Linked DNA regions of Homo sapiens: all the other regions are linked to region 1. Evidence: fine-mapped expression QTL. A gene starts in region 1. Each other region holds a variant in brackets. All regions are shown on one strand. Distances are between the middles of the regions.

Region 1 (5,866 bases):
AAAGAAAGACCCCCACATTCAGGATGGGGCTGCAGTGCAGAGACTGGCAGCGCGCAAGGCCTACCTTTTACTTTTCCTCCCCAAATCCTGGCAGCTCCTCCCCTAGGGACCCAGCTACCCAGCTATCCAGCTGGGGCCTCCACCCTCATCACCTAGAGGCAGAGGGGCTGAGACCAAGACAGAAGAAGGCCTGATGAGGGGGCCACATATGCTACAGGCTACATGAAGACCAAGACAGAGAATCAGAGGCCAGGGAGAAAGAGAGAGGGTGCAGAAAAACAGGAAGGAGGCTGAGACAGAAAATGAAGTAGGAGGAAGGGGCTTCAGAGTGACCTGGCAGGCACAGAGAAGAGGGCTATCTGATCTTATAAAGTGATGGAGAAGGAGGAGGAGAGGGGGGGGAGGAGGAGGAAGGAGGCTCAAGATAGAGGTTAGGCCAGGGCTGATGGGCCAGCCCTAGAACCCAGGTCTTACCTGCCCCATCTCTTCTGGAGCACCCAACTCCATCCGCAGCCGCATGTCTACAGCTTTCCTCCGGGACAGTGGAGGGGTCCTGGCCCCTGAGCCCCCAGCCTCCGCTTCCACCCTCAGAGAGGGCAGGGGCGTGGCAGCCCGGGATGTGCCCGCACTCTCACCGGTCTCAGGCTCTGGGGGGCGCTGCTGGGGTGAGGAGGCCGACAGTGGGGGTTTCTCTGCCTTGGCTTTGCTGGGCACCACCAGCTGGCCCAGTCCCCCAGTGAAGGAGCGGGCCTGAGGTCCAGGAGAGGTGGGGGGTGGACGGAGCCAGGAGGTGGGGCCCTGAGACAGGCCTGACGGTGGGGTGGGGGCGCCCAGGCCGAGGCTGGCCAGCTCCAACCTGGAATCCAAAGATCTGCCCCCGGCGCCCCCTGAGGCCCCTCGAATTCCCTCCAGGAGTCCGCCGAAGCTGTGGGGCTCCAGGTCTCGCTCATAAACATCCACACACGTCCAGCGACCGCGGCGATAAGGCTCTCCCAGGCCGTGGGGCAGCTTCACCACCCGGAAACGGGAGGAAGGGGCCCCAGGTGGTGGGGAGCCATTCCGGGGGGTGCCCTTGCCCCCCGGATCGGGGCTGGGCTCCCCATTGGGCAGGCGGGGCGGGGGCCCGGTTGGGGGCTGTGGGGTAGGGGGATCCGAAGCCCCTGGGCTCCCAGGGCCCTCATAGTCCGTGGTGACGCTGGTGATTTGGAAACTACTCTTCTTCTTGCCCCCGCTCATGGTCCCTGGGGCTCAGGGCTGGGCCAAGGTTGGGGGTGGGTTGGGGCTCCTTGAAGGGGCTCAGGCACCCCTGGAACAAGGGGGCCACATGGCGGGGACATCCGAGCCCCTGGGGACGTCTGGGTCCGACATGGCAGGAGGGCCTGGCGGGAACCGGGGGTGCCTGCTGGGTGAGGGGAGAAGAGGAGAGGGGAGGTGGCGGGAGGGGGGAGCAGGGGCAGGTTTTTCCTGCTGCTGTTGCTGCTGAACTCCAGAGCTGAGTTTGCAAACTGGAAAAAGAGGGGGAGAGAGAGAGAGAGAGAGAGAGAGAGAGTGTGTGTGTGTGTGTGTGTGTGTGTGTGTGTGTGTGTGTGTGTGTGTGTGAAACCAGTGGGCAGGCCACCTCCGGGGCTTCCTCTCCGGGGAGCAGAGTGGGGGAAGGGGAAACCGTCAGAGACCCAGAGACAGGCAAGAGATGACAGAGACCAGGGCAGAGGGGACTGGATCCAAGAAGGCACTCAGAGTAGAAAGAGGCAGATGAGTCCCAGAGTTGGGCATTTCTCGCCTGGGATTCTGACTCAGGGGGCCCGTATTGTCCCAAGAGCTCGGACTCCAGGGCCTGGGAGAACCAGGCTGAAGCAGCTCCCCAGCCTGGCCCGGCCACTCAGAGAGACCTCTCCTGGGCCTCGAGCCCCCACCCTCACCCCAGCTCCCACATCTCTGGGGCAGGCCCTGCCCGGCTACCCCCCAGCGCCCCACCCAGCCCTGAACCCTACCTCTGGGGCCTCGGCCACTGATCTGAGCCTGAGGGTCCCGGCGCCTAAGAGGTCGGGCTGTCCGTTCCCTGGGGCCTCCTGGCCATGGGCAGTGGCGGGGCACGCAGGCGGCGATCAGAGGCTGTCCCGTCCTCTCCGGGGGCCGCGGCTCATCCTGCCAGGCATCTCCGAGGAAAGTTTGCTCTCCGGAAAAGAAGAAACCCGCGCCTCCTCCGAGGAGCCTAGGAGCGGCCTCTGAAGCCCCAAGGGTCTGGAGACTGATGTGGGAGGGGGCGGCCGAGCCCCCCTCTGCTCCCGGTGGCAGCCAGCGAGTGGGTGTCCCGAGTCTCCTCCCGCGTGACCCTGCTGGGTCCGTGTCTCCGCTCCTCGGCTCCCCTGGGTCTCTGCCTCTCCGTCTTTCTCTTTCTGGGCTGTTGACAACCCCCACACCAGGAAGTCCTGCCTCCTCGGGCCTGCTGACTGCTCCTCTCCTCCTCCTCCTCCTCCTTCCCCTCTTCCTCCCCTTCCTCCTCCCTCCCTCCCTCCTGGGGCTTCCCGCCAGCTGGCCCGGGGCCAGGCCTGCCACAGCCGCTGCTGTTGCAGTTGCTGCAGCCACTGCTTAGGCTGCTGCTCCTGGGGGCCCCAAACAGACTCCCTTAACCCCACACCTGCCGGGCCCTAGCCCCACTCTTGCAGGGAGGGGCTGCAGGGGGCGGGGCTCGGGGAGAAAGGGGAGGAGCTTGCAGGGAGGCGAGGGATTCCCTTACTTGTAGTCAATTGCTGCCATTGGCCTAGAGACACACAGAAGAGACGGAAGGCACAGGCCGGGAGGTGTGCTGCATGCCCACCCAGAAGTTCCCAGTCCCTGCTGTGGGGCAGCTGTGGCTGTTACTGTCATTCTCCTTTGGTTTTCACAGCAACTGCATTATTCCCCCCATTCCTTATTTTTAAAAGTGGATTATTGCCGGATCCCGGTGGTGGCTCATGCCTGTAATCTCCGCACTTTGGGAGGTCGAGGAAGGAGGATCGCTTGAGACCAGTTTGGACAATATAATAGCAAGACCCCATCTCTACAAAAAATAAAAAAAAATAGCTGGGCATGGTGATGTGCACCTATAATTCCAGCTACTCAAAGGTGGGAGGATCGCTTGAGCCCAGGAGTTCGTGACCAGCCTGGGCAATATAACGAGATCCCCATCTCTACAAAAAATTTAAAAAATTAGCACTTTGGGAGGCCGAGGCGGGCGGATCACGAGGTCAAGAGATTAAGACCATCCTGGCCAACATGGTGAAACCAAGTCTCTACTTAAAATACAAAAATTAGCCAGGTGTGGTGGCGGGCACCTGTAGTCCCAGCTACTCGGGAGGCTGAGGCAGGAGAATCACTTCAACCTGGGAGGCGGAGGTTGCAGTGAGTCGAGATCACGCCACTGCACTCCAGCCTGGTGACAGAGTGAGACTCCATCTTAAAAAAAAAAAAAAACTGAGTGTGGTGATGTATACCTGTAGTCCCAGCTACTCAGGAGGCTGTGAGGCAGGAGGATCTCTTGAGCCCAGGAGGTTGAGGATGCAGTGAGCCAAGATTGTGCCACTGCACTCCAGCCTGGGCAACAGAGTGAGACCATGTCTCAAAAAAAAAAAAAAAGTGGATTATTATGAAAATTTTCAAACATGCCATGCAGACATGGGGAGACCATGCAAACTCCACACAGATGGTGGTCCCAGCCCAAAATCAATTTTTAGAAAATCATCAATGTTATAATGAAATGACATTCAATGAAATGACATTGTGTGGGGGCCAGCTGTAGTTTGCTGGACTATTTGAAATCAGATCCTAGATGTTATACTATTCCCCTTTCCCCCAACCTGCCCCCGCCTTTTTTTTTAGAGACAGGGTCTCTCTCTCTCTCTGTTGCCCAGGATGGAGTGCAGTGGTGCGATCATAGCTCACCACAGCCTGGAACTCCTGGGCTCAAGCCATGCTCCTGCCTCAGCCTCCCAAGTAGCTGGGACCACAGACACACACTACTACGCCTGGCTAAATTTCTTTAAAAAAAAATTTTTTTTTTTGGTAGAGATGGGGATCTTGCAATGTTGCCCAGGGTGGTCTTGAACTCCCGGCCTCAAGTGATCCTCCTGCTTCTGCCTCCCTAGTAGCTGGGACCACAGGTGTATACCACCATACCTGGCTAATTTTTTAGTTTTTGTAGAGACAGGTTATTACTATGTTGCCCAGGCTGGTCTCGAATTCCTGGCCTCAAATGATACTTCCACCTGGGCCTCCCAAAGAGCTGACATTACAGGCGTGAGCCATGGTGCCTGGCCTCAGGGAAATTTCTAACCCCTCTTTTTTTGAGACGGAGTCTCGCTCTGTCGCCCAGGCTGGAGTGCAGTGGCTCTATCTCGGCTCACTGCAAGCTCCACCTCCCGGGTTCACGCCATTCTCCTGCCTCAGCCTGTAGCTGGGACTACAGGCACCCGCCACCATGCCCGGCTAATTTTTTGTATTTTTACTAGAGACGGGGTTTCCCCGTGTTAGCCAGGATGGTCTTGATCTCCTGACCTCGTGATCCGCCCGCCTCGGCCTCCCAAAGTGCTGGGATTACAGGCATAAGCCACCACGCCCGGCCTCTAACCCCTCTTTAGGGGTACGTAAAAATAAAACAATGCAATACCTACCCTCTTTATGTATTTATTCTTTATCTCTTTGTTAGAAGCATCCACACTTCTGTTTCTCTCCCTTAAGCCATAGTAACAACGGCTGCCATAGCCCAAGTCTGTGGGCCTCCCAAGTAGTGAAGTCTGGGAAGCAGCCTCCCACCTGCTCCCTACCCCTCTAGACTGCATCCCTCTGTCCCTTACAGAACCTTTTCTCCTCTAGCAACATTCAGAACACAGCCTTGGTCCCTCCTTCCCCAGACCCTCCTTCCTTCTTGCTGACTTGCTACAAACTATTCAAAAATTATCTTTGGGCAGTCTCTTTCTCTGCCTCAGGCACTGGTATCTGAGTCTAGAGGCCCTGGCACATTGTTGATCTCTGCAGAAATGTTTGTTGAGTAAATACATACAAATTTTTATATTTTAATTTGAGATGAAGTCTTGCTCTGTCACCCAAGCTGAAGTGCAGTGGCGTGATCTCAGCTCACTGAACCTCCGCCTCCCAGGTTGTGATTCTCCTGCCTCAGCCTCCCGAGTAGCCAGGATTGTAGGCACCCGCCACGACGCCTGGCTAATTTTTGTAGTTTTAGTAGAGATGGGCGTCTCATCATGTTGGCCAGGCTGGTCTCGAACTCCTGACCTCAAGTGATCTGCATGCCTCAGACTCCCAAAGTGCTGGGATTACAGACGTGAGCCACTGCTCCCGGCCTATACATATAAACTAATCATACTAAAGGTATAAATGTGAAATGGGTTTTAAGTGTTTTAATATTTCCCTCCCCTGGGAGCATTCTTAATAGCCTATAATATGTGGGACCTTTTACAATTTACAAGGCACTTTGGTATTATTTTACTACCCCTCCCCTTCCAAAGAATGGACTAAAGCCAGCTTGTCCAACCGCACGGGCAGCTTGTGGCCCAAGACAAATTGGTAAATTTTCTTAAAACGCCTAAGTTTTGGTTTTTGTTTTTGTTTTCGTTTTTTTTTTTTTTTTCTCTGAGACAAAGTCTCTCTCTCTCACCCAGGCTGGAGTGCAGTGGCCCGATCTGGGCTCACGTCAACCTCTGCCTTCCAGGTCAAGCGATTCTCCTGCCTTGGCCTCCCGAGTAGCTGGGATTACAGGCGCAGGCCACCATGCCCAGCTTATTTTTTCTATCTTTAGTAGACACGGGGTTTTGCCACGTTGGCCAGGCTGGTCTCAAACTTCTGATGTCAGGTGATCCACCAGCCTCGGCCT
Region 2 (5,866 bases), 170 kb before region 1:
TCTTTTCCATCTCCCCGCCACAGAGTTGTCTTCAGTAATTTCATTCCCTTTTTTCCTGAGGATTCACTGGGTTTCTGGGTCCCAGAGGGGAAGTTCTCTTCAAGGTACAGAAACCACGACTCCGCAGAGAACCGCAGAGACGGCGGCATGACCAGACCACGGACAGGTGTGGAGAAGCTGCTGGGCTAAAACTTGGGCTGAACTTCCGCTGCAGGTCGACTTATTCCCATCAGCACCAAAGCCACTGGAGGGGGTCATCCACTAGCAAATGAAGTGGGGGCACGGATTGGAGGCTGTTTCAGAAGGTCCCACTGAGCCACGGACTCAAGGCCTGGCCACAGCCCTCCCAAGCAAGGCCCAGATCATATTTCACCACGCTCAGAAAACCTTGTCAGCTCATTTCAGTCCACGGTGACTTTGCTTTCTTTAGGATCTCTCTTGCACTGTCCAACTCAGAGAATTTCAAATCTGAATGGATTCCAATGATGGAGCTAAATCAGGCCTCACCTCAGTTTTTTAATTACAATCAATAGGGCTGGGTCCCAGCATCTGTGTCTTAATGTTCCTCCATGTGATCCTCATGCTGAAAGGCTGGTATTTGAAAATCCCTTTTTTTGGGGAGTGAAGGGTTTTTTTTAGAGACAGGCCTCACTCTGATGCCCAGCCTGGAATGCAGTGGTAGATCACAGCTCACTGCAGCCTCGAACTCCTGGCCGCAAGAAATCCTCCCACCTTAGCCAACCAAAGTGTTGGGATTGCAGGAGTGACCACTGTGTCCAGCCAGGAAAGCCCTTCTGTTTCACTTGAATGATATTTCTGCCGCAGACCTACAGCCATTGTTGTATTAAACGGCATCATTGCAGGAAAAGAAAAGGTGAGAGGTGACTGTTTTGCTTTTTTCTGAACATATCAGACCAAACCTGGGCTGTCTGGCACTTTTTTTTTTTTTTTGAGTCGGAGTCTCACTCTGTCGCCCAGGCTGGAGTGTAGTGTCGTGATCTCGGCTCACTGGAACCTCCACCATCCCGGTTCAAGTGATTCTCCTGCCTCAGCCCCGCAAGTAGCTGGAATTACAGAAGTGCACTCCCACACCCAGCTCATTGTTTCTGTATTTTTACAGAAAAACAGACAGGTTTCACCATGTTGGCCAGGCTGATCTCAACCTCCTCACCTCTGGTTATCTGTCGGCATCGGCTTCCAAAAGTGCTGGGATTACAAGTGTGAGCCACCGCGCCTGGTTTGCCCATTTTTTGACAATGTATCAACATCATCTAAGATGGGCACTGCCTCAGTGTAGTGTGTCTAGACAAGGTGGCCGGAACAGAGAGGAATATGCATACCAGGCTTAAAGACGGGTTAAATCAGAGCTTTTCATTCCACAAAAGAGCAATTTTAATGAGGTCAGAACATGGATGTTCTAATATTTGAAAGCCTGTTAACTAGGAGAGAGAGAGAGTAAAGTGATTTGTTGTAGGAGGACACACCCAGCTCTGACGGTTTAAAGCGTCATGAATGCAAATTTGAACTCCAGAAAAGCAGAGCTTCCTAACAATGGGACTTCCACAGCAATGGGATTTCCTTCCACATTCAGTTTGTGCCTTTCCCATGAGCGAGAGACTCCTAGGAGAGCCGCAGCCCGTTAGGAAGCCATGTGGGAACTCATCCACAGGTTCTTTTTGTTTGTTTTTTTTTTTTTTTTGAGATGTAGTTTTGCTCTTGTTGCCCAGGCTGGAGTGCAATGGTGCGACCTTGGCTCACTGCAACCTCCGCCTCCCAAGTTTAAGCCATTCTGCTGCCCCCGCCTCCTGAGTGGCTGGGATTACAGGCACCCACCACCATGCCTGACTAATTTTTTGTATTTTTAGAAGAGATGGGGTTTCACCATGTTGGCCAGGCTGCTCTTAAACTCCTGACCTCAAGCGATCCACCTGCTATGGCCTCCCAAAGCGCTGGGATTACAGGCGTGAGCCACTGTGCCTGGCCGGAACCCACAGGTTCTTTGGATGGTCTCTGAATGTCATGAAACTCTTTTATATTTAATTAAAAAAATTTTTTTGACACAAGGTCTTGCTGTGTTGCCCAGACTGGAGTGCGGTGTCACGATCACAGCTCACTGCAGCCCCTAACTCCTAGGCTCAAGCAATCCTCCTGCCACCTCAGTCTCTCAAGTTGTTGGAACACAGGTGCCAGCCACGACACCTGGCTAATTTTGTTCTGTTTTGTTTTGTTTTGTTTGAGATGGGGTCTTGCTATGTTGCCTACACTGGTCTTGAACTGCTGGCCTCAGGCAGTCTTCCTCCCTTGGCCACCCAAAGAGATGGGATTGCAAGCATGAGCCACTGTGCACAGCTGAGATTTTTCGACTTAGTCTTTTTGTACACCCAGTATCTTATAGAATATCCATAATATAGATTCATAAATAAACCATTTCCTTCAATAGTATAAATAAATAAACCACTGCTATAAATGGTGGAATTTCTGAGTTAAGAGCAATACATATGATACAAAACTTGATATATAGAGTTTCTTAGCCAAACTGGAGGGGCTGGCTTTAGGTGATCCGTGGACTCCCTGAAACTGGGGACACCATTGGAAATATGTGTGAGCTCATGGGCAGTTTCCGATGATTTCCAGTCCTCAAAATATCTCTTGGACTCAAAGATGCCTTAGGGCAGAGGACACGTTACACCCAGTACAGAATCTCGGACAGTGAATATCAGTAAACATTCGGCAGAAAAGCTCTGCCAAATTGAGTGCTCTGATGTGACTTTTTCATCAAGTCAATGTTCCTGGGATCTCTTGTACATGATACTCTCACTCTTATAAGGTTTCATCGTTTCTGCTTACCCTAGTTTTCTTTCCCATCCTGATCCCTCTCCCACCAGACTGGACTCTGAAACGGGCATGTACAGAGAAGAGGAGACCCCAACACGCTTCAAGCTTTGAGTGGAGAGGACACAGCCTCTGCTGGGACAGGGAACAGAGGGATGCGGAGACCCTGAAGATGCTTTTGGACAGTGGTCTGAGGTTGGGACAGTGGCAGGAGATACCATTCACCCAGGATCTCCAGGACAAGAGATCAGCCTGGCAGTTACATGTGTTTTTGTTCAAACTGGTTGCCAGGTTGGAATGACCTATGACATCAGAGATTCCGACCTTCCTGATTGGAAGGACCGGACTCTGTCGGCGCCTGGCAGTTCAGGTGAACAACAGTAACTTCTCAGAGCTGTTCTCCACTCCTGACTTCTCCCAGCCTCGAGAATTGATAACACACTCTTCTGGATCCCAGCAGTGTCCAGAAGAAGACCAAG[G/A]ACAGAACAGAGACTAGCTTCGGTGAGATTGGACAGATTTTGGGAAAGATCATGACGAGCCATCAACCGCAGCCCCAGGAAGAGCAGAGCCCCCAGCGGAGCACCTCAGGGTACCCCCTCCAGGAGGTGGTGGATGATGAAGTGTCGGGACCATCAGGTGAGGGGACTGGAGGAAGAAGAGGTGGCATAGGATTGACTAAGACGAAGGAAGGGGGCCAGGTGCGGTAGCTCACCCCTGTAACACCAACACTTTGGGAGGCCGAGGCGGGCAGATCACCTGAGGTCAGCAGTTCAAGACCAGCCTGGCCAACATGGTGAAACCCCATCTCTACTAAAAGTACAAAAATTAGCCAGGCGGTAGTGGTGTGTGCCTATAATCCCAGCTACTCGGGAGGCTGAGACAGGAGAATCGCTTGAGCCTGGGAGGAAGAGGGTGCAGTGAGCCGAGATCGTGCTACTGCACTCCAGTCTGGGTGAGAGAGTGAGACGCTGTCTCAAAAAAAAAAAAAAAAAAAGAAGAAGAAAAAAAAGAAGGGTCAGAGGTCAGGAAGGAGAACCTGGGGAGGGTGTGTGGGAAGAATGGAGAAATTCAGGCTGGGTGCAGTGGCTCACACCTGTAATCCCAGCACTTTGGGAAGCCAAGGCAGGCGGATCACGTGAGGCCAAGAGTTTGAGACCAGCCTGGCCAACATGGCGAAACCCCGTCTCTACTAAAAGTACAAAATTGAGCTGGGCATTATGGCAGGCACCTGTAATCCCAGCTACCTGAGAGGCTGAGGCAGGAGAATAACTGGAATCCGGGAGATGGATGTTGCAGTGAGCTGAGATTGTACCACTACACTCCAGCCTGGGTGACAAAGCAAGATTCTGTCTCGAAACAAAAAAAAAAAAAGAGGGCCTCAGAGAGCCAGGGACCAGGGAACGATATGACGCAGTGTTCTGAGGACAGAGAGAGGGAAGAATGGGGAGGGGAAGGAGTGGCACATGGGGTTGAGCAGAGGAGAAAGTCAGAAAGGTGGCTTGGAGAAGCCAGCAGTCTGAGAGGCTGGGGAGGATGGAGAATGGTTTGGGGTTTGGGGTCGGGGTCTAACGTGATCAGTTGCAGAAGCATTACACGGTGGCCTGGTTTCTTTACTCAGCCCCTGGGGTAGATCCCAGCCCCCCACGTAGGTCCCTTGGCTGCAAAAGGAAGAGGGAGTGTTTGGATGAATCTGATGATGAGCCAGAGAAGGAGCTCGCCCCTGAGCCTGAGGAGACCTGGGTGGCGGAGACGCTGTGTGGCCTCAAGATGAAGGCGAAGCGACGGCGAGTGTCGCTCGTGCTCCCTGAGTACTACGAGGCCTTCAACAGGCTGCTTGGTAGGAGGACACCCCAGAGAGCACCTCCAATCCTGTTCTTTCTAAAAAGAGGAAACTTCCAATAACCACACTTTTCCAATGGGAAAAATATGCCCCAGTGGGTGAGCTCTCCATGCGGGAGGACTCTGAAGTGATCACTCATGAGGGACACTTAGGAGACAACAGAGGATTAGGTAGACTTGATAAAGGTCGGTGCTTGGGATAAGAAAGCTTGGTTTTGGGCCAGGCGCTGTGGCTCCCGCCTGAGATCCCAGCACGTTGGGAGGCTGAGGCAAGAGGATTGCTTGAACTCAGGACTTCGAGGCTGCAGTGAGCTATGACTGCACCACTGCACTCCAGCCTGAGTGACAGAGCAAAACTCTGCGTCAAAAGAAAAACCAAGGCTGGGCACAGTAGCTCATGCCTGTAGTTCCAGCTACTCGGGAGGCTGAGACAGGAGAATCGCTTGAGCCTGGGAGGAAGAGGGTGCAGTGAGCCGAGATCGTGCTACTGCACTCCAGTCTGGGTGAGAGAGTGAGACGCTGTCTCAAAAAAAAAAAAAAAAAAGAAGAAAAAAAAGAAGGGTCAGAGGTCAGGAAGGAGAACCTGGGGAGGGTGTGTGGGAAGAATGGAGAAATTCAGGCTGGGTGCAGTGGCTCACACCTGTAATCCCAGCACTTTGGGAAGCCAAGGCAGGTGGATCACGTGAGGCCAGGAGTTTGAGACCAGCCTGGCCAACATGGTGAAACCCCCGTCTCTACTAAAAGTACAAAATTGAGCTGGGCATTATGGCAGGCACCTGTAATCCCAGCTACCTGAGAGGCTGAGGCAGGAGAATAACTGGAATCCGGGAGATAGATGTTGCAGTCAGCTGAGATTGCACCACTACACTCCAGCCTGGGTGACAAAGCAAGATTCTGTCTCGAAACAGAAAAAAAAAAGAGGGCCTCAGAGAGCCAGGGACCAGGGAACGATATGACGCAGTGTTCTGAGGACAGAGAGAGGGAAGAATGGGGAGGGGAAGGAGTGGCACATGGGGTTGAGCAGAGGAGAAAGTCAGAAAGGTGGCTTGGAGAAGCCAGCAGTCTGAGAGGCTGGGGAGGATGGAGAGTGGTTTGGGGTTTGGGGTCGGGGTCTAACGTGATCAGTTGCAGAAGCATTACACGGTGGCCTGGTTTCTTTACTCAGCCCCTGGGGTAGATCCCAGCCCCCCACGTA
Region 3 (5,866 bases), 140 kb before region 1:
TTTCCGGGCGGGGCGGAAAAAATACTTCCCGTCTCTCCTTTTCGCCTAGTGGCTCTGTCAAAGGTCGAGTCCGTGACGTCAAAGAGCCTGGACCAATCAGAGCACACCGGACTGCGTTTTTTCCGAACGCCAGCAGCAGGGTCAGAAGGGAGGTAGTCGCCCTCCGTCGTGGCCTGGCGTGGATTCCGAGCGTTGGTGTCTGGCGGTTTCCGACCGTTGGTGTCTGGCACGCGCCACCCCGATGTACCAGGTAAAGCCCTATCACGGGGTCGGCGCCCCTCTCCGTGTGGAGCCCACCTGCATGTACTGGCTCCCCAACATGCACGGCAGGAGCGGCGGCCCAGCACTCGGCACTGGCCACTTGCAGGTAGGAGCGCGGGGCCCCCCCGCCCACTGCGCACGCGCGGCGGCCCGTTGCTGGCCCAGGTGCCCCTAGGCCGGATAGAGTGCGTCCCAACCGATTCGCGGCCCCACCCCGGCATCTGTGCCGGCCGGCCAGGGGGTCACCCAGATTTTTATGTTTTAAAAGATTTATTCAGGCCGGGCGCCGTGGCTCACGCCTGTAATCCCGGCACTTTGGGAGGCCGAGGCGGGCGGATCACCTGAGATCAAGAGTTCGAGACCAGTCTGGCCAACATGGTGAAACCTCGTCTCTACTAAAAATGCAAAAATTAGCCGGGCATGTGTCGGGCGCCTGTAATCCCAGCTACTCGGGAGGCTGAGGCAGGAGAATGGTTTGAACCCTGGAGGCGGAGCTTGCAGTGAGCTGAGATCGAGCCATTGCACTCGAGCCTGGGCAGCAAGAGTGAAACTCCGTCTCAAAAAAAAAATTATTATATATATATATATTTTTATATATGTTAAATATACCTTTATTATGCGTATTATACATATTGTATATTATGTGTAATATATAACATGATATATTATAAAATATATATTATATATATATATATCTTTCCTGGTCGAGCGCGGTGGTTCACGCCTGGAATCTCAGCGCTTTGGGAGACCGAAGCGGGAGGATTGCTTGAGCCCGGAGAGTTTGAGACCACCCTGAGCAACATAGCAAGACCCTTGTCTCTATGTTTTTTTTTTTTTTTGAGTTGGAGTCTTGCTCTGTCGCCCAGGCTGGAATGCAGTGGCCTGATCTCGGCTCACTGCAAGCTCCACCTCCCGGGTTCACGCCATTCTCCTGCCTCAGCCTCCCCAGTAGATGGGACTACAGGCGCCCGCCACCATGCCTGGCTAACTTTTTTTTGTATTTTTAGTAGAGACATGGTTTCACCGTGTTAGCCAGGATGGTCTCGATCTCCTGACCTCGTGATTCGCCTGCCTCGGCCTCCCAAATTGCTGGGATTACAGGCGTGAGCCACCACGCCCAGCTGCCTTGTCTCTATTTTTTAAATGTTTTAATTAAAATAAAAATCTATCCATATTTTTTCTTTTTTTTTGCGTATGGCTGCTTAAACATTTTAGTTCAGAATTCTATCCTCTGAAAAGTGAGTAGCACATAAATGCTCATTTTGAGGAATTACAAAGCGAACCCCAGGGTCACCACCTCCCAGGTTGACACACATTGTGACCGCTCCATTCTTTCCACTTAAACCTTCCCCACCAACATCCCAGGGCCCGATTTTTATGGTAATTATGTCCTGCTTGTCTCTATTATTTTGTCAGCTAAGTATCCCTAAACAATATGGTCTGGTTTTTTGTTTGTTTTTGTTTGTTTGTTTTTTTCAGACGGAGTTTCACTCTGTCACCCAGGCTGGAGTGCAGTGGCATGATCTCGGCTCACTGCCACCTTGGCCTCCTGGGTTCAAGGAATTCTCAGGCCTCAGCCTCATGAGTAGCTGAGATTACAGGCGCTGTCCACTGCACCTGGCTAATTTTTGTATTTTTAGTAGAGACGGGGTTTTGCCATGTTGACCAGGCTGGTCTTGAACTCCTGACCTCAGGCGATCCGCCCGCCTTGAACTCCCAAAGTGCTGGGATTACAGGTGTGAGCCACCGTGCCCGGCACCTAAACAACATAGTTTTGATATAGGTAAGCATACAGCATATATTTTGATGTATTTCAGGTAATTTAGTCTAAGAACAGGAAAGGACAGAAAATGAACACAATTTGTAGTTCTTTGTTGTTAACAAACTAAGAATACTTTGCTTAAATAAGTAGCAATGAGAATGTAACTCAGTAATTCATACAAATAGACAAGAAGACAAGAAAATGATTTGAGGACAGCTTCAATCGCGGTGTGAAGAAGAAAGCAACAAAACGACCACTGAAAACAATGCCGGTGAGTCAGCCAGTTTTGTTTTTGAATCTTGTCAGGGAAGCAGCCCAGCTATTCGGGAGGCTGAGACAGGAGAATGGCACGAACCCCGGGGGCAGAGCTGGCAGTGAGCCGAGATCACGCCACTGCACGCCAGCCTGGG[C/T]GACAGAGCGAGACTCAGTCTCAAAAAAAAGAGAAAACCTAAGAGGTTCAGGTGATATGGTTCAAAAAAGGACAAGATTTACAAAGTATTAAGGGACGGAAATAGGAAGAAGAGAAATTTCGAAGAGAAAAGAAAAGAAAAGGATGTTTGGTTATAGAGATACAGGAAGGGGACTCAAGGAATTTTTTTTTAAAGGGAAAAAAGTTAATAAACTTCATAATATAAAAATCAATTATTTTAGGACTGAGTCTAACTCAGACTCTGCTGTGGAATTGGCAGCGTAAGCCTACTTGTGTGATAATGATGAAACCAAGTGTTAATGTCACTGTTACCTTTTTTTCATATTTCTGATCTTTTTATGTGTATCAGGTGGCAAAACATCCAAAGAAAGGGTCCCAAGTGGTACATCGTCATAGCTGGAAACAGTCAGAGCCACCAGCCAATGATCTTTTCAATGCTGCGAAAGCTGCCAAAAGTGACATGCAGGTAAAGCAGTGTCTTACCTCTGTTGATACCATCTCACTTTTTGTAAGGTGGTAAGGACAAGTGTCTACAAACTTGATTTGATGTGAACATTTTAGTGAGTGTAACATATCAAGAAAGATAAGATTATGGGGTGAATCCTTGGAGTGATAGAAGGGTAACCTTGAATAAGAGAGCATGTTCTTTTTTTTTTTTTTTTGAGACAGAGTCTCTTTCTGTTGCCCAGGCTGGAGTGCAGTGGCACAGTCTCAGCTCACTGCAGCCTCTGCCTCCTGGGTTCAAGCGATTCTTATGCCTCAGCCTCCCAAGTAGCTGGGCTTACAGGCATGTGCCACCATGCCTAGCTAATTTCTGTATTTTTAGTAGAGATGGGGTTTCGCCATGTCGGCCAGGCTGGTCTCCAACTCCTGACCTCAGGTGATCCGCCTGCCTCGGCCTCCCAAAGTGCTGGGATTACAGGTGTGAGCCACCGCACCCGGCTTCGAGAGAGCGTTTCTTTTCTTAAAGCGTGTTCTTTTCTTAAAGGTATCACAGGAGTGATTATGCCTTTGTTGATTGATGGAGCAGATGGGGAGAGGCATTGCATGACATGGGAAGGAAGCTTAGATGTGGGTGGCACCTTGTTCACCCATGTTATTTTTTAGCTCCATCTTGACAATTATACTTAATTATTTTTCCCTCTCTCTGTTTCTTTTTTTATAATTTTATTGAAGTTCTAATATCTGAAAGTGTACAAAGCGTATATGTAGTTTAAAAAATAAAAATGAGATATCACCCAGATCTCTAGCCCCAGCTCAAGAAATGAAACATTAATAGTGCTGTAGAGATCCTTTGTGTACCTTCTTTCTACCCTACCTCACAGTCCCCTTATTACCCATAGGTAAACACTAGGGTGAATTTTGTGTTAATCTTTGTCATTTCATTATAGTGTTACCACTATGAATGTGTTCTTTAATTATGTAAATGAATCCATTATTCAGGCTTCTGTGATTTAATTATTTCAGTTAACATTGTTTGAGATTTATCCACATTAATGTGTAATTTTATAGTTTCTGGGAAAATATTTAAAATTTTCAAACATACAGAATTTTGCTAGTTATATTTTCGTTATTTGATTTCTAACTTTATTGTGTTGTAGTCAGGGAATGTGGTGTTTGAAATTTATGTAGGGGCTGGGCGCAGTGGCTCACAGCTGTGATCCCAGCACTTGGGGAGGCTGAGGCAGGCAGATCACTTGAGGCCAGGAGTTCGAGACCAGCCTGGCCAACATGGCGAAACCCCATCTCTACTAAAAATACAAAAATTAGCTGCATGTGGTGGCATTTGTCTGTAATCCCAGCCACTTGGGAGGCTGAGGCATGAGAATTGCTTGAACCCAGGAGGTGGAGGTTGCAGTGAGCTGAGATTGTGCCATGGCACTCCAGCCTGGGTAACAGAGTGATACTCTGTCTCAAAAAAAAAAAAAAAAAAAGACATTTATGGAGACTTAGCCTTATGGCCTAGTATTGAGTTGGTACATTCGTTTTATCTTTTCTGTTTCTTTTTCCCCCTTTGCTTACTTTCCTCTGGATTTCTTATCTTCTACAAGGACCTGAGCACATTTTAATTCCAGTTGTCTTTTCCACCTTACATGCAGTTGTACAGTGTGTTAGTTTTTTATTTGAAACGGAGTCTTGCTCTGTCACCAGGCTGGAGTGCAGTGACGCGATCTTGGCTCACTGCACCTCCGCCTCCCGGGTTCAGGCGATTCTCCTGCCTCAGCCTGCCAAGTAGCTGGGACTACAGGCACCCGCCACCATGCTTGGCTAATTTTTGGCCACCATGCCCAGCCTGAATGAACTTTCAAAATTGGTTTTTAAAAGAGGTATGGAGGCCGGGTGCAGTGGCTCACACCTGTAACTCCAGCACTTTGGGAGGCCAAGACGGGCAGATCACTTGAGGTCAGGAGTTCGAGACCAGCCTGGCCAACATGGCGAAACCCCATCTCTACTAAAAATACGAAAAGGTAGCTGGGCGTGGTGGTGCACCTGTGTATTCCTTTCATCTTTCTCATTATAGGATTTCTGACAGGACTCTGGGCCCCTCCCCAGCTCCACTCCCTACCTCAAGAATGTGACCATTTGGAAAAGGCAAAGAGAAAAGGAGCAAAATGAAGCATTCCCCCAGGCTTCAGCCCTGGGCTCTGAGGGGAAAGAGTGGGGCATTGTTTTTCTAACCTAACCTTTCCCTCTGGTGATGTTGGGGTAGAGAAGCCGAGAGACCCTGTCCTCCCTAATGCACTGTGGCCCAGTCCCCTTGCCTTTTTCCTGTTCTGTTTGGAGTGGAGAAGGGCAGCACCTCTGTGTTTAATGGAAGTAGCCCATAGTCTCCTGGATTTTTGGAACATCTTTTTCAGCCTATTTTGTGTCCTAATGATTCACTCAATAAACATGTTTGAATCCACACGTTCCCAAGGTGTGGCTTGAGATCGTTAAACTGATGGAGGTCAGGTTCTTGGTCCGCCTTGTCCCATGGCCCAGTGTATAGGTGTCCCCACACCCCGCAGGTGCTTTGTCTACAGGCTCTCCAGGAAGTATTGCTTAGTAACTGAGAGGCGGGGTGAGGCAGTAGAGATGGGGAGAGTTTGACTGCCTGTGAGTAGTTTATCTAGTGGCCTCAGCCTCTGCAGTAGTAAAAGTTGTGCTGACAGGTGGCAGAGTGGAGCAGGACCTTGTGAAACTACCTGTCTCACCCACGTGAGCCAGGCCAGACCCTGTGTCCTGGCAGCCTTCATCCATGGGTTCTTTCCAAAGGAAATTTTATCCTCTCATCCGAAAGATACCTGTCATAATTTGGAATTTGATCAAATCACAGTATCTGAGAGTTAAAAGGAAACTAAGGAGTTACTCTAAATGTCCAACCCTAAAATCCAAGTGACAATGTCACCTTCACTCTTGCCTTCTCCAGCTAG
Region 4 (5,866 bases), 23 kb before region 1:
CACATGGTATTCTTTATCACTTCCAAAATGACATTCCTAGCTGGGTGCAGTGGTTCACACCTGTAATCCCAGCACTTTGGGAGGCCGAGGTAGGAGGATTGCTTGAGGCCAGGAGTTTGAGACCAGACTGGGCAACATAGCTAGAACCCATCGCCACAAATATTAAAAAAGAATTAGCTGGGCATGGTGGCATACACCTGTAGTTTCAGCTATTCGGGAGGCTGTGGTGGGAGGATCGCTTGAGTCCAGGAGTTGGAGGCTGCAGTGAGCCATGATTGCGCCACTGCCCTCCAGCCTGGGCAACAGAGCCAGACCCTGTCTCTAAAAAACAAAAACCACTGGCCGGGTGCAGTGGCTCACGCCTGTAATCCTAGCACTTCGGGGAGCTGAGACAGGTGGATCATCTGAGGTCAGGAGTGCAAGACCAGCCTGGACAACATGGTGAGACCCTGTCTCTACTAAAAATACAAAAGTTAGCCGGGTGTGGCCAGGCGCGGTGGCTCATGCCTGTAATCCCAGCACTTTGGGAGGCCAAGGCAGGCGGATCACGAGGTCAGGAGATCAAGACGATCCTGGCTAACATGGTGAAACCCCGTTCTCTACTAAAAATACGAAAAAAAATTAGCCGGGCGTGGTGGCATGTACCTGTAATCCCAGCTACTCAGGAGGCTGAGGCAGGAGAATGGTGTGAACCCGGGAGGCGGAGCTTGCCGTCAGCGGAGATCATGCCACTGCACTACAGCCTGGGTGACAGAGTGAGACTCTGTCTCAAAAAAAAAAAAAAAAAAACCAAAAAACAAAAACGGTTACATGGGTGTGGTGGCAAGCACCTGTAATCCCAGCTACTCCAGAGGCTGAGGCAGGAGAACCACTTGAACCCCACGGGCGGAGGTTGCAATGAGCCGAGATCACACCACTGCACTCCAGCCTTGGCGATAGAGTGAGACTCCATCTCAAAAAAACACACAAAAAAACTGTCATCAAGAGGCAGCTTCCTTCTGCCCACCCCTTTCCTTCCTCTCCCACAAGTCTGCCTGTGCCTGCTCAGCCAAGCCTAGACAGGGCTCCAGATCTGGGGAAGGAGAGAGTGATGGGATGTGCCTTGGTTGCTGGCTGAACCCACCTTCCTTAATTTCCCTTCCACTCCCAAGAGCTGAAGAAGCCAAAGACAAACGAGAGCAGTATTCCTTTCCACAAGCCCACAGCGTCAAGCCTGGATGAGCTCCTGGGCCTGTAGCTACTTGCAAGGCTATTTTACCAGTGACCCTCAGAGGCCCAGCTTCGTCCTACTCTCCCCTCCCCTCCTCTCACTGAAACCTCAGGTCCCCAGCGATGAGGAGCTCATCTCTAAAGACTCGGAGGGGCTGATCCCGGATGTTAGACAGCTAGGTACTACTCCAAACCTCAGGACCCATTAAATCTCAGGGCTTCCTGGGACTCAGATCCTGCACCAACACCATTCACCCCCAGAAGGGTTCCTGGCAGATAATAGAGACGTGATGAATAATTGGTGATTGAAAACTCCAGACATGAGCTGCTCTTTATTAGTCTGTTTTGAGGCCCCGCCTGAAAACCTGAAAGCAGGCTTTGACTTTAGGCTTCACTCAGGACTGATTCCCAGTGAAGTCACTTAACTCATGTGTTGAACACCTGCTGTGTAACATGTGCAGAATGAAAGCTACATGACCTTTCTTTTCTCTTTCTTTTTTTTTTTTTTTCTGAGATAGAGTCTCACTCTGTTGCCCAGGCTGGAGTGCACTGGTGCAATCTCACCTCATTGCAACCTCTGCCTCCCGGGTTCAAATTATTCTGTCTCAGCCTCCCAAGTAGCTGGGATTATAGACACATGCCACCACACCCAGCTAATTTTTTGTATTTTTAGTAGAAACGGGGTTTCACCATGTGAAAAAGATGTTTTAAGAGATAAGGTCTTGTTATGTTGCCCAGGCTGGTCTCAAACTCCTGAGCTCAAGCAATCCTCCCGCCTCAGTCTCCCAAGGTGCTGGGATTATAGGCATGAGTCACCGTGCCCGGCCTTGCTGTTGCTTTTGTGAAACAACCCTGCTTTTTCCTGGAGAGCCACCTCTGCACCTTCATGTGGCTTGGCTACTCCGAGAGGGGACCTGAGGCTGCTGGGTCTCCCTTCTTGTTGTCTCCGTTGCCCTCCAACCTCCTTCCAAATTGCCACAGCCTCCCTCTAGGTCCTTATTCCCACGGTGCCAGGCCAAATCCCTCACCCAGCTCCTAGGCTGCAGCCTTCACCCGGCCCTGCCGTGAGCATGGTCCCTGTAGAGCCCCCTGGAGGTGTAGTTTCAGCTCTTGGTGAGGCGCGGGCAGCAGGCAGCGGGGCTGGAGTTCCTTCACAGCACGTGGATGCATCTCCCACAGCCCCCATGTGCGTCTGCAGACGCACAACTCTCCACAGCCAAGCCCATGGCAAAGCCCTTCAGCACCAGAGAGGCAGGGTAGTGGGCTACCCCTGGGAGCTGGCAGTTTCCAGCAAGGCCTCCTTTGCTGAGCCTTGGACAAGTCCCGTAATCCACCCTAAATACCTTTCTTGTAGGATCGCTAAGGACAGCAGCTGACGGGACTGGGTCCTTGGTGAATGGCAGCTGTTACCGTCCTTATAAGGAAAGGTGGAGTTACAAACAGGCATTTTGGCCCCAAGAAGGGGGTGGGACCCAGAGCAGAAACGTGCTGACCATGCTTCCCCCCAAATAGACCCACAGGTGACCCCTACTGGGATTTAGGCCCTCACCTTAGGGGT[C/T]TCTCCCTGACCCACCCAAACTCCTCTCATCCCCTCCCGCCGTCCACAAACACACTCCATACTGACTCAGAACTATCTGATATTTATTTCCCAATATTTTGATACTTGTTTTACAACTGGAATACATGGAATGAAGGGGCTGATATGGGACCCCAGGTAAGAGTGAGGTCAGGACTCTCTAAGGGTCTGGGGTTCCCCCTAGAGGGGACTTTGGGCATCCAGTTTCAGGGACTGAGCCGGGTTGGGTCGGGGGGCAGCATGGCATCGGACGTGGTGCCGTCTGTGCCTCTCCTGCCTGCGGTACAGCCGGCGCAGGTGTTTCCGAACGGCCCACAGCACCAGGTACACCTCCCACAGCAACTCAGCCTCCGGAGTCTTCAAAGGTGACTGCGTCCTCACTTGGGAGCTGACTGAGGCAGAACTCACTGATGACTGTAAGAGAAAGAGAAGATGTGCATGCGTAAATAGCTGGGTCTAGGGAGAAACTGCCGCTAGAACGACCCATAGATAAACAGCAAAGGGCTCCCTGATTCCACCTCTCCCATCAGCCCAACTCATACATCACCTCCTCCAGAAAGCCTTCTCAGGTTGCATCAAATGTTTGTCATTTCTATCCTTTTTTTTTTTTTTAATGAGACGGGGTCTTGCTATGTTGCCCAGGCTGGTCTCGAACTCCTGGGCTCAAGAGATCTTCCTGCCTTGGCTTCCCAAAGTGTTGGGGATTACAGGCGTGAGGCATCACACCTGGCCCATCAGTTCTATTCTTCTTTTTTTTGTTGTTTTGAGATGGAGTCTTGCTCTATCACCCAGGCTGGAGTACAGTGGCATGATCTCAGCTCACTGCATCCTCCACCTCCTGGGTTTAAGCGATTCTTCTGCCTCAGGCTCCTGAGTAGCTGGGATTACAGGTGCTCGCTATCACGCCCAGCTAATTTTTGTAGTTTTAGTAGAGAAGGGGTTTCACCATGTTGGCCAGGCTGGTCTCGAACTCCTGACCTCAAGTGATCAGCCGGCCTCGGCCTCCCAAAGTGCTGGGATTACAGGCGTGAGCCACCATGCCTGGCCTTTTTTTTTTTTTTTTTTTTGAGACAAGGTCTCACTCTGTCACCCAGGCTGGAGTGCAGTGGCATAATCTCAGCTCACTGCAACCTCCACCTCCCAAGTTCAAGTGATGCTCCCACCTCAGCCTCCTGAGTAGCTGGGACTACAGTCGTGCACCACCATGCCCGGCTAACTTTTATATATATATATGTGTGTGTGTGTGTGTGTGTGTGTGTGTGTGTGTGTGTATATATATATATATATTTTTTTTTTTTTTTGTAGAAATGGGGTTTTGCCCAGGCTGGTCTTGAACTCCTGAGCTCAAGTGATCCACCTGCCTCAGCCTCCCAAATGCTGAGATTACAGGCGTGAGTCGCCACGCTCGGCTTAAACTGTTTTTTTGTTTTGTTTTGTTTTGAGATCATTGTAGACTGACTGACCTGCAATTGGAAGAAATCATAGAGATCCTGTGCACCCTTTACTGAGTTCACCTCATAGGAAAATCTTGCAAATCTATACTATTATATCATAGTCAGGATATTGACATTGATCCAATCTACTGATCTTATGTAGATTTCCCCAGTTGTACTTGTACTCACTGGTGTGTGTGTGTGTGTGTGTGTGTGTGTGTGTGTGTGTGTGTGTATAATTTTACCAAGTTTTATCCAGTATGCAGGTTCATGTATCCAACTACCACAGTCAAGGTACAGAACATTTCCATCGGGCAGGAGAAACAAAAAACAAAAACATAAAAACAAAACAAAACAGAAAGCTACAGAACATTTCCATCAGACAGGAGAAAGCAAAAAACAAAAACAAAACAAAAAAAGATACAGAACATTTGCATCATCACAAGTGTCCCTCATGTTGTCCTTTAATAACTACACTCTTCTCCCCCTATCTCTGTGGCCCCTGGAAACCACTGAGCCACTAATATGTTTGCCATTTCTAGACTTTTGTTATTTCAAGAGTGGTAGATAATATAAACGGAATCATTCAGAATATAACCTTTTAGGATTGGTTGTTTCCACTCAGTATAATTTCCTTGAGGCCGGGCCCAGTGGCTCATGCCTATAATCCCAGCACTTTGGGAGGCCAAGGTGGGTGGATCACCTGAAGTCAGGAGTTCCAGACCAGCCTGGCTAACATGGTGAAACCCCATCTCTACTAAAAATACAAAAAATTAGCTGGGTGTGGTGGTGGGCACCTGTGGTCCCATCTAATCGGGAGGCTGAGGCAGGAGAATAGCTTGAAGCTGGGAGGCGGAGGTTGCAGTGAGCCGAGGTCGCACCACTTCATTCCAGCCTGGGCAATGAGAGTGAAACTCCGTCTCAAAACAAAACAAAAAATTTCCCTCAAGATTCACACCCACGTTACTGTGTGTATCAATAGTTTGTCCTTTTTACCTTTTTTTTTTTTTTTTTTTTGAGACGAAGTCTCCCTCTGTCACCCAGGCTGGAGTGCAGTGGCACAATCTTGGCTCACTGCAAGCTCCGCCTCCCGGGTTCACGCCATTCTCCTGCCTCAGCCTCCCGAGTAGCTGGTACTACAGGCGCCTGCCACCACGCCTGGCTAATTTTTTTGTATTTTTTTTTTTAGTAGAGACGGGCTTTCATCCTGTTAGTCAGGATGGTCTTGATCTCCTGACCTCGAGATCCGCCTGCCTCGGCCTCCCAAAGTGCTGGGATTACAGGTGTGAGCCACCGTGCCCGGCCTTTATTTTTTCAGGCAGAGTTTCACTTTTGTTGCCCAGGCTGGAGTGCAGTGGCATGATCTCAGCTCACTGCAACCTCCGCCTCCCAGGTTCAAGCGATTCTCCTGCCTCAGCCTCCCGAGTAGCCCACCACCATGCCCAGATAATTTTTTTGTATTTTTAGTAGATACAGGGTTTCACCATGTTGGCCGGGCTGGTCTCGAACTCCTGATCTCAGGTGATATGCCTGCCTTGGCCTCCCAAAGTGCTGGGATTACAGGCATGAGCCACCACGCCCGGCCCTGTCCTTTCCGTCTTTTTAGAATTTTATTTATTTGTGTGTTTGTTTTGTTTGTTTGCAGATA
Region 5 (5,866 bases), 300 kb before region 1:
CGGCAGGGGGGCGGGACCCGGCTGGCACTCAGGAGGTTGGTGAAATAGGGGCGTGGTCTCCCTCGGGGGCGTGGCGATCCGGCTCAAAAGGCGGGGCCTGGGTGGAACCTAGCCTATGGCAATTGAGAAGCCAGATTAAAGGGGTTACTAGCAGTCTGGTCCAAAACCCGCCCAATGGAGTAGGAGATTGAGGGTAGCGGGGGTGGGACCTGGGTGGGGGCGGGGCTAAAGCGGGCCGCCCGCGTGCCCAAGCCCACGTGAGAGGGCAGGACGCCTGAGAGCTTGAGGCCACACGAGGCTGTGGAGCGGCGTGACTCAAACGTGGCGCGCATCAGCTCGCACACTTCCAAACCTCGCGATAGCTACTGGCCCTGGGCGAGCCGTTGGGATTGCGCTTGCGCACAGCGTGTCTTGTACGTTCCCGCGCTTTTCTGGAATCTTTCGCCCCCGGAAGGGCAGCGGCGGGCGCCTGTGTGGAAGGTGGGGTGGCCAGAGACACCCGAGGGACCTGAGGTGGGGACCTTCCCTGAACCCTGCTCGGCCAGAAGTCACTCTTCCAGGCTCTGACAGGTTTCTCCTTGACCCAAGAATAGGCCCTCTCGCGACCCTCCCGGCCCTGACACTAGGAGCCTTCCCGGGCCGTGCCCCAATGGCCTCCGCCACAGAGCTGGAGAATCCTCTCCCCAGGCCTCCATAGACTGAGAGTCCATTCTCTTAAGCGCTTGGAAGGCTCTTTATCCTGGAGCCGCTTACCCCAGGGGCAGTCGTAGATATTTTTACCTTCTGGAAAAATAGGAAACGCGCACCTGCCTTTCCTCCTTTTGCGTTTCCAGCCCTATTCTCATGGCGCCTCCACCCCCAAATCCTTAAGAGCCTCCTGTTCCATTCCAGGTGGAATCAGGTGCTAGTCCTCTGGAAACGAAAGCCTGGGGTCTTCTTGTATTTTTTTTCTTATTTCTTTCTTTATTTTTTTTATTTCATTTTAAAAAACCTGTAAGTTCCCTTGCAGAGGGCGGTTTATACTTCCGAAGCCTCCAGAGAGGGGTGCGTCTGAAGCTGCCCTGCTGTCTGCCTTGCTTGGCTTTTTTTTTTTTTTCCATTTAATTTTTTTTTTTTAGAGACAGGGCGTTGCTATGTGGCCCAGGCTGATCTTGAATTCCTGGACCCAAGCGATGCTCCCGCTTCGCCCTCCCAAAGTACTGGGATTATAGGCGGGAGCACTGTGCACCACGCCTCGGCTTTTGGAGAGCAATTCCAAACCCACTGCCCAGTTTCTGGTGTCTGTAATCCCTTGGTGCTTTAGGTCCACTCTTTGCCTTATTTTATTTATTTGTCATTACTTTTTTTTTTTTTTGAGACAGAGTCTCGCTCTGTTTCCCAGGCTGGAGTGCAGTGGTGCAGTCATAGCTCGCTGCAGCCTCGACCTCCTGGGCTCAGGCGATCGTCCCGCTTCATTCTGCCGAGTAGCTGGGACTACAGGTGCACCACCACACCTGGCTAGTTTTTTTGGTTTTGGTTTGGTTTTTTCGTAGAGACAGGATCTTGCTATATTGCCCAGACTGATTTTGAACTCGTAGGGTTAGGCAGTCCTCCTGCTTCAGCTGCTCAAAGTGCTGGGATTCCAGGTTTGAGCCACCCTGGGCACCTTGCCTTTTTTTTTTTTTTTTTAATTATGAGTTAAATTCCCTTGCAGCAGGCAGTTTACACTTCTGAAGCCTCTAGAGAGGGCTGTGTCTGAAGCTGCCCTGGTGTGTACCTTGCTTGGGTTTTGTTTTTTTTTTTTTGGGTGTGTCTCATGTTGCCAAGGCTGGTCTCAAACTGCTGGGCTCAAGCAGTCCTCCTGTCTCAGCCTCCTGAGTAGCTGGGACCACAGGTGTGCGCAACAACACCTAGCTAGTTTTTGCTTATTTTTTGTAGAGATGGGGTCTTGCTATGTTGCCCAGATTGGTCTTGAACTACTGGGCTCAAGCAGTCCTCCCGCCTCAGCCGCCTAAAGTTCTGGGATTACAAGTATGATCTACCACACCCAGTGTGCAATTTTTTTTTTTAAAGAAAATACCTATGAGTTAAATTTCCTTGCAGTAGGCAGTTTGCACTTCCACAGCCTCTAGAGAGAGATGTGTCTGAAGCTACCCTGGTGTGTGACTTCCTCAGCTTTTGGAGAGCAACTCCAAACCTGCTGGCCAGTTTCTGGGGTGTTGTTGTGCTTAATCCCTTGATGCCTTAGGTCAGCTCTTTGTCTTATTTATTTATTTATTTTGAGATGGAGTTTCACTCTTGTTGCCCAGGCTGGAGTGCAGTGGCACGATCTCAGCTCACCACAACCTCCGCCTTCTAGGTTCAAGCGATTCTCCTGCCTCAGCCTCCCAAGTAGCTGGAATTACAGGCATATGCCACCACACCCGGATAATTTTGTATTTTTAGTAGAAATGGGGTTTCTCCATGTTGGTCAGGCTGGTCTCGAACCCCTGACCTCAGGTGATCTGCCTGCCTCGACCTCCCAAAGTGCTGGGATTACAGGCATGAGTCACTGTGCCCAGCCATTTGTCTTATTTATCATTACTATTTTTTTGAGGGGGGACAGGGTCTTCTTCTGTCACCCAAGCTGGATGGAGTACAGTGGTGCGATCGTAGCTCACTGCAGCCTTGAACTCCTGGACTCAAGCAATCCTCCCACCTCAGCCTCCTGAATAGCTGAATACAGGCATGCTCTACCACACCTGACTAATGATTATTATTATTTTTTTTTTAGAAATGGGGTCTTGCTGTATTGCCCAGGCTGGTCTTGAACTCCTGGGCTCAAGCCATCCTCCTGCCTTGGCCTCCCAAAGTGCTGGGATTATAGGCATGAGCCACGGTGCCCAGCCTTTGTCTTAGTTTTTGGTCCCCCTCACCTGACCCCAGAGTTCTAGAACCATTCCCTTGGAAAGAAAGGGACTGGTCAGGGCTGGGGATGGAGAAGTGCTGTGGTAGGAGCCCTTTCTTCTCTTTCTTCCCCAGCTGGATCGCCATACCTACCCTGTGGTCCTCATCTTCCTGGCCTCATAGCTCCTCCTCTCCAAGCATGTCTTCCCCGTTGCAAAGAGCTGTGGGAGATACCAAGAGGGCCTTGTCTGCATCTTCTAGTTCCTCTGCCAGTCTACCCTTTGATGACAGGGACTCAAACCATACCTCAGAGGGGTAAGTAGATGTTGCATTGTGTGGCCACTTCCTGTGTCCCTGGCAGCCTTCCCCCTCGTTTTCCCACATTGATGATAATATGCGTGGGACTGTGTGAAAACACCAGAAGTGCTATACTCGTTCAGCACAGTGACACCCTCCCTCCAGCTCCAGGTGTTTTTTTTGGCGGTCCTAGATGTTGTAGACATCAAAATAGTAGTACATCCTGTTTTTTTTTTTTTTTTTGAGACGGAGTCTCGCCCTGTCGCCCAGGCTGGAGTGCAGTGGCGCGATCTCGGCTTACTGCAACCTCCGCCTCCTGGGTTCAAGCACATCCTGTTTTTAATCCATCATCCATCTTGTCTAAACCTCTCTTAAACACATTTCTATGTTCAGCATGTACCAACCCTGGTGGGGGCTGAGAGCTGGCAGATGGGGGAGTAAAGAGTTCTTTATTTGTTGCCTGGTAAATTGTATATACTTTTTGGCTAGTGTCCCCTATTTCTTCTACTTGGGGATTTTGTAAATAGGTCTGTGTATCCTTATTTATTACCATATATGAGTTTATTCTGTGTAGGTTATAATAATATATCTTGGTTTTTTACCTTTCCAGAAGGAAAAAAGCGAATTTCATACAGATCTGCTTTATCCCCTGGCTGTTTTAATTGGC[T/G]TTCTCTGAATCATTTCTGTTTCTGTCAGTGCTGCTGTGGGGGACCAGATTATATCAAAGTTATAAACTTGAATTGATAAGACATGTGGTTTATGTTTCAAGGGGGTGAAATTTAACTCTAGATACATATTACTCTCCCATTTATGGATGAATGATAGATGACTTCCTGAGCCATGATTATCTTTCTCTACAAAGAGCAGTGATCTCGCTACCTGCTAAGTGAGTATCATTTGATTCTCTTCTTCGGAGAGAATACTAGGAAGAGTTGTCCTTCTCCTGCCTCATTTCCTCATTCTTCATCTCCATTGCTTTCATGTGAAAGTTTTCCTTTAAGGCTTTGTCCCGGCCGGGTGTGGTGGCTCATGCCTATAATCCCAACACTTTGGGAGGCCGAGGCGGGTGGATCACCTGAAGTCAGGAGTTTGAGACCACCTTGGCCAACACGGTGAAACACCTGTAATCCCAGCTACTCGGGAGGCTGAGGTAGGAGAATCGCTTGAACCTGGGAGGCGGAGGTTGCAGTGAGCTGAGATCATGCGATTGCACTCCAGCCTGGGTGACAAGGGTGAAACTCCGTCTCAAAAAAAAAAAAAAAAAAGACTTTGTCCCAACTTCCTACTAACAATAAGCTCATTTTTTCTTAAAATCTGGATATGTTTTTCTCATGGAGATGGGGTGCGGTGAGAGACAGAGAAACCATAATTAATTAGCCTTTTATATGGAGGGAATAGGGTGGTTATATTTAAAGAGAACCATACTTTCTCACAGGAATGGCGACTCTTTGTTAGCTGATGAAGACACTGACTTTGAAGACAGCTTGAATCGCAATGTGAAGAAGAGAGCAGCAAAACGACCACCGAAAACAACACCGGTGAGTCAGCCAGTTTTCTTTTGTTTTTGAATCTTGTGGGGGAAGCAGCCCAGCTACTTGGGAGGCTGAGGCAGGAGAATGGCGTGAACCCAGGGGGCAGAGCTTGCAGTGAGCCGAGATTGCGCCCCTGCACTCTAGCCTGGGCGACAGAGCGAGACTCCGTCTCAAAAAAAAAAAAAGAAAAGAAAACCTAAAAGAGGTTCAGGTGATACGGTTCATAAAAGGACAAGATTTACAAAGTATTAAGGGATGGAAATAGGAAGAAGAGAAATTTTGAAGAGAAAAGAAGAGAAAAGGACGTTAGGATGTAGAGATACAGGAAGGGGACTCAAGGACTTTTTTTTTAAGGGAAAAAAATAAACTTCATAACAATATAAAAATCAATTATTTCAGGACTGAGTCTAACTCAGACTCTGCTGTGGAATTGGCAGCTTAAGCCTACTTGTGTGATAATGATGAAACCAAGCGTTAATGTCACTGTTACCTTTTTTGTTTTTTTTTCATATTTCTGATCTTTTTATACATATTAGGTGGCAAAACATCCAAAGAAAGGGTCCCGAGTGGTACATCGTCATAGCCGGAAACAGTCAGAGCCACCAGCCAATGATCTTTTCAATGCTGTGAAAGCCGCCAAAAGTGACATGCAGGTAAAGCAGTGTCTCACCTCTGTTGATACCATCTCACTTTTTGTAAGGTGGTAAGGACAAGTGTCTACAAACTTGATTTGACGTGAACATTTTAGTGAGTGTAACATGTCAAGAAAGATAAGGTTATGGGGTGAATCCTTGGAGTGATAGAAGGGTAACCTTGAATGAGAGAGCATGTTCTTTTTTTTTTTTTAGACAGAGTCTCTTTCTGTCGCCCAGGCTGGAGTGCAGTGGCACAGTCTTGGCTCACTGCAGCCTCTGCCTCCTGGGTTCAAGCGATTCTTGTGCCTCAGCCTCCCAAGTAGCTGGGATTACAGGCGTGTGCCACCACGCCCAGCTACTTTTTGTATTTTTAGTAGAGATGGGGTTTCGCCATGTTGGCCAGGCTGGTCTCCAACTTCTGACCTCAGGTGATCCGCCCACCTTGGCCTCCCAAAGTGCTGGGATTACAGGCGTGAGTCACTGCACCTGGCTTTGAGAGAGCATGTTCTTTTCTTAAAGGTATCACAGGAGTGATTA

The links.
Region 2: its variant is fine-mapped to the expression of TSC22D4 in blood mononuclear cells (TOPMed, PIP above 0.99).
Region 3: its variant is fine-mapped to the expression of TSC22D4 in whole blood (TOPMed, PIP 0.97).
Region 4: its variant is fine-mapped to the expression of TSC22D4 in whole blood (TOPMed, PIP 0.96).
Region 5: its variant is fine-mapped to the expression of TSC22D4 in whole blood (INTERVAL, PIP 0.95).

Annotation. Positions count from the first base shown.
Region 1 is chr7:100,476,803-100,482,668 of GRCh38, forward strand. TSC22D4 (TSC22 domain family member 4) reads right to left here and starts at 2,412. Exons shown (of 5, transcript NM_030935.5): 1 at 1,992-2,412; 2 at 475-1,505. The coding sequence starts at 1,236. TSC22D4-C7ORF61 (TSC22D4-C7orf61 readthrough) reads right to left here and starts at 2,412. Exons shown (of 6, transcript NM_001395846.1): 1 at 1,992-2,412; 2 at 475-1,505. The coding sequence starts at 1,236. RefSeq lists enhancers at 2,048-2,117, 2,818-2,927 and a silencer at 2,568-2,727.
Region 2 is chr7:100,304,524-100,310,389 of GRCh38, forward strand. It overlaps SPDYE3 (speedy/RINGO cell cycle regulator family member E3), which reads left to right and starts at 3,179. Exons shown (of 11, transcript NM_001004351.5): 1 at 3,179-3,468; 2 at 4,451-4,669; 3 at 5,837-5,866. The coding sequence starts at 3,363. The variant G/A (reference allele first, on the strand shown) is at 3,312.
Region 3 is chr7:100,335,971-100,341,836 of GRCh38, forward strand. It overlaps STAG3L5P-PVRIG2P-PILRB (STAG3L5P-PVRIG2P-PILRB readthrough), which reads left to right and starts at 95. Exons shown (of 17, transcript NR_036570.1): 1 at 95-367; 2 at 2,209-2,294; 3 at 2,803-2,919. It also overlaps the pseudogene PMS2P1 and the pseudogene STAG3L5P. RefSeq lists an enhancer at 1-75 and a silencer at 394-463. The variant C/T (reference allele first, on the strand shown) is at 2,434.
Region 4 is chr7:100,453,787-100,459,652 of GRCh38, forward strand. TSC22D4-C7ORF61 (TSC22D4-C7orf61 readthrough) reads right to left here. Exons shown (of 6, transcript NM_001395846.1): 6 at 2,834-3,199. The coding sequence ends at 2,966. It overlaps SPACDR (sperm acrosome developmental regulator), which reads right to left. Exons shown (of 3, transcript NM_001004323.3): 3 at 2,834-3,199. The coding sequence ends at 2,966. Among named protein-coding and RNA genes, the nearest start is that of SPACDR, 7.5 kb to the right of the region's middle. RefSeq lists a silencer at 3,316-3,478. The variant C/T (reference allele first, on the strand shown) is at 2,768.
Region 5 is chr7:100,177,493-100,183,358 of GRCh38, forward strand. STAG3 (STAG3 cohesin complex component) reads left to right here and starts at 426. Exons shown (of 34, transcript NM_001282717.2): 1 at 426-513; 2 at 3,001-3,180; 3 at 4,598-4,700; 4 at 5,231-5,347. The coding sequence starts at 3,065. RefSeq lists a silencer at 151-200. The variant T/G (reference allele first, on the strand shown) is at 3,830.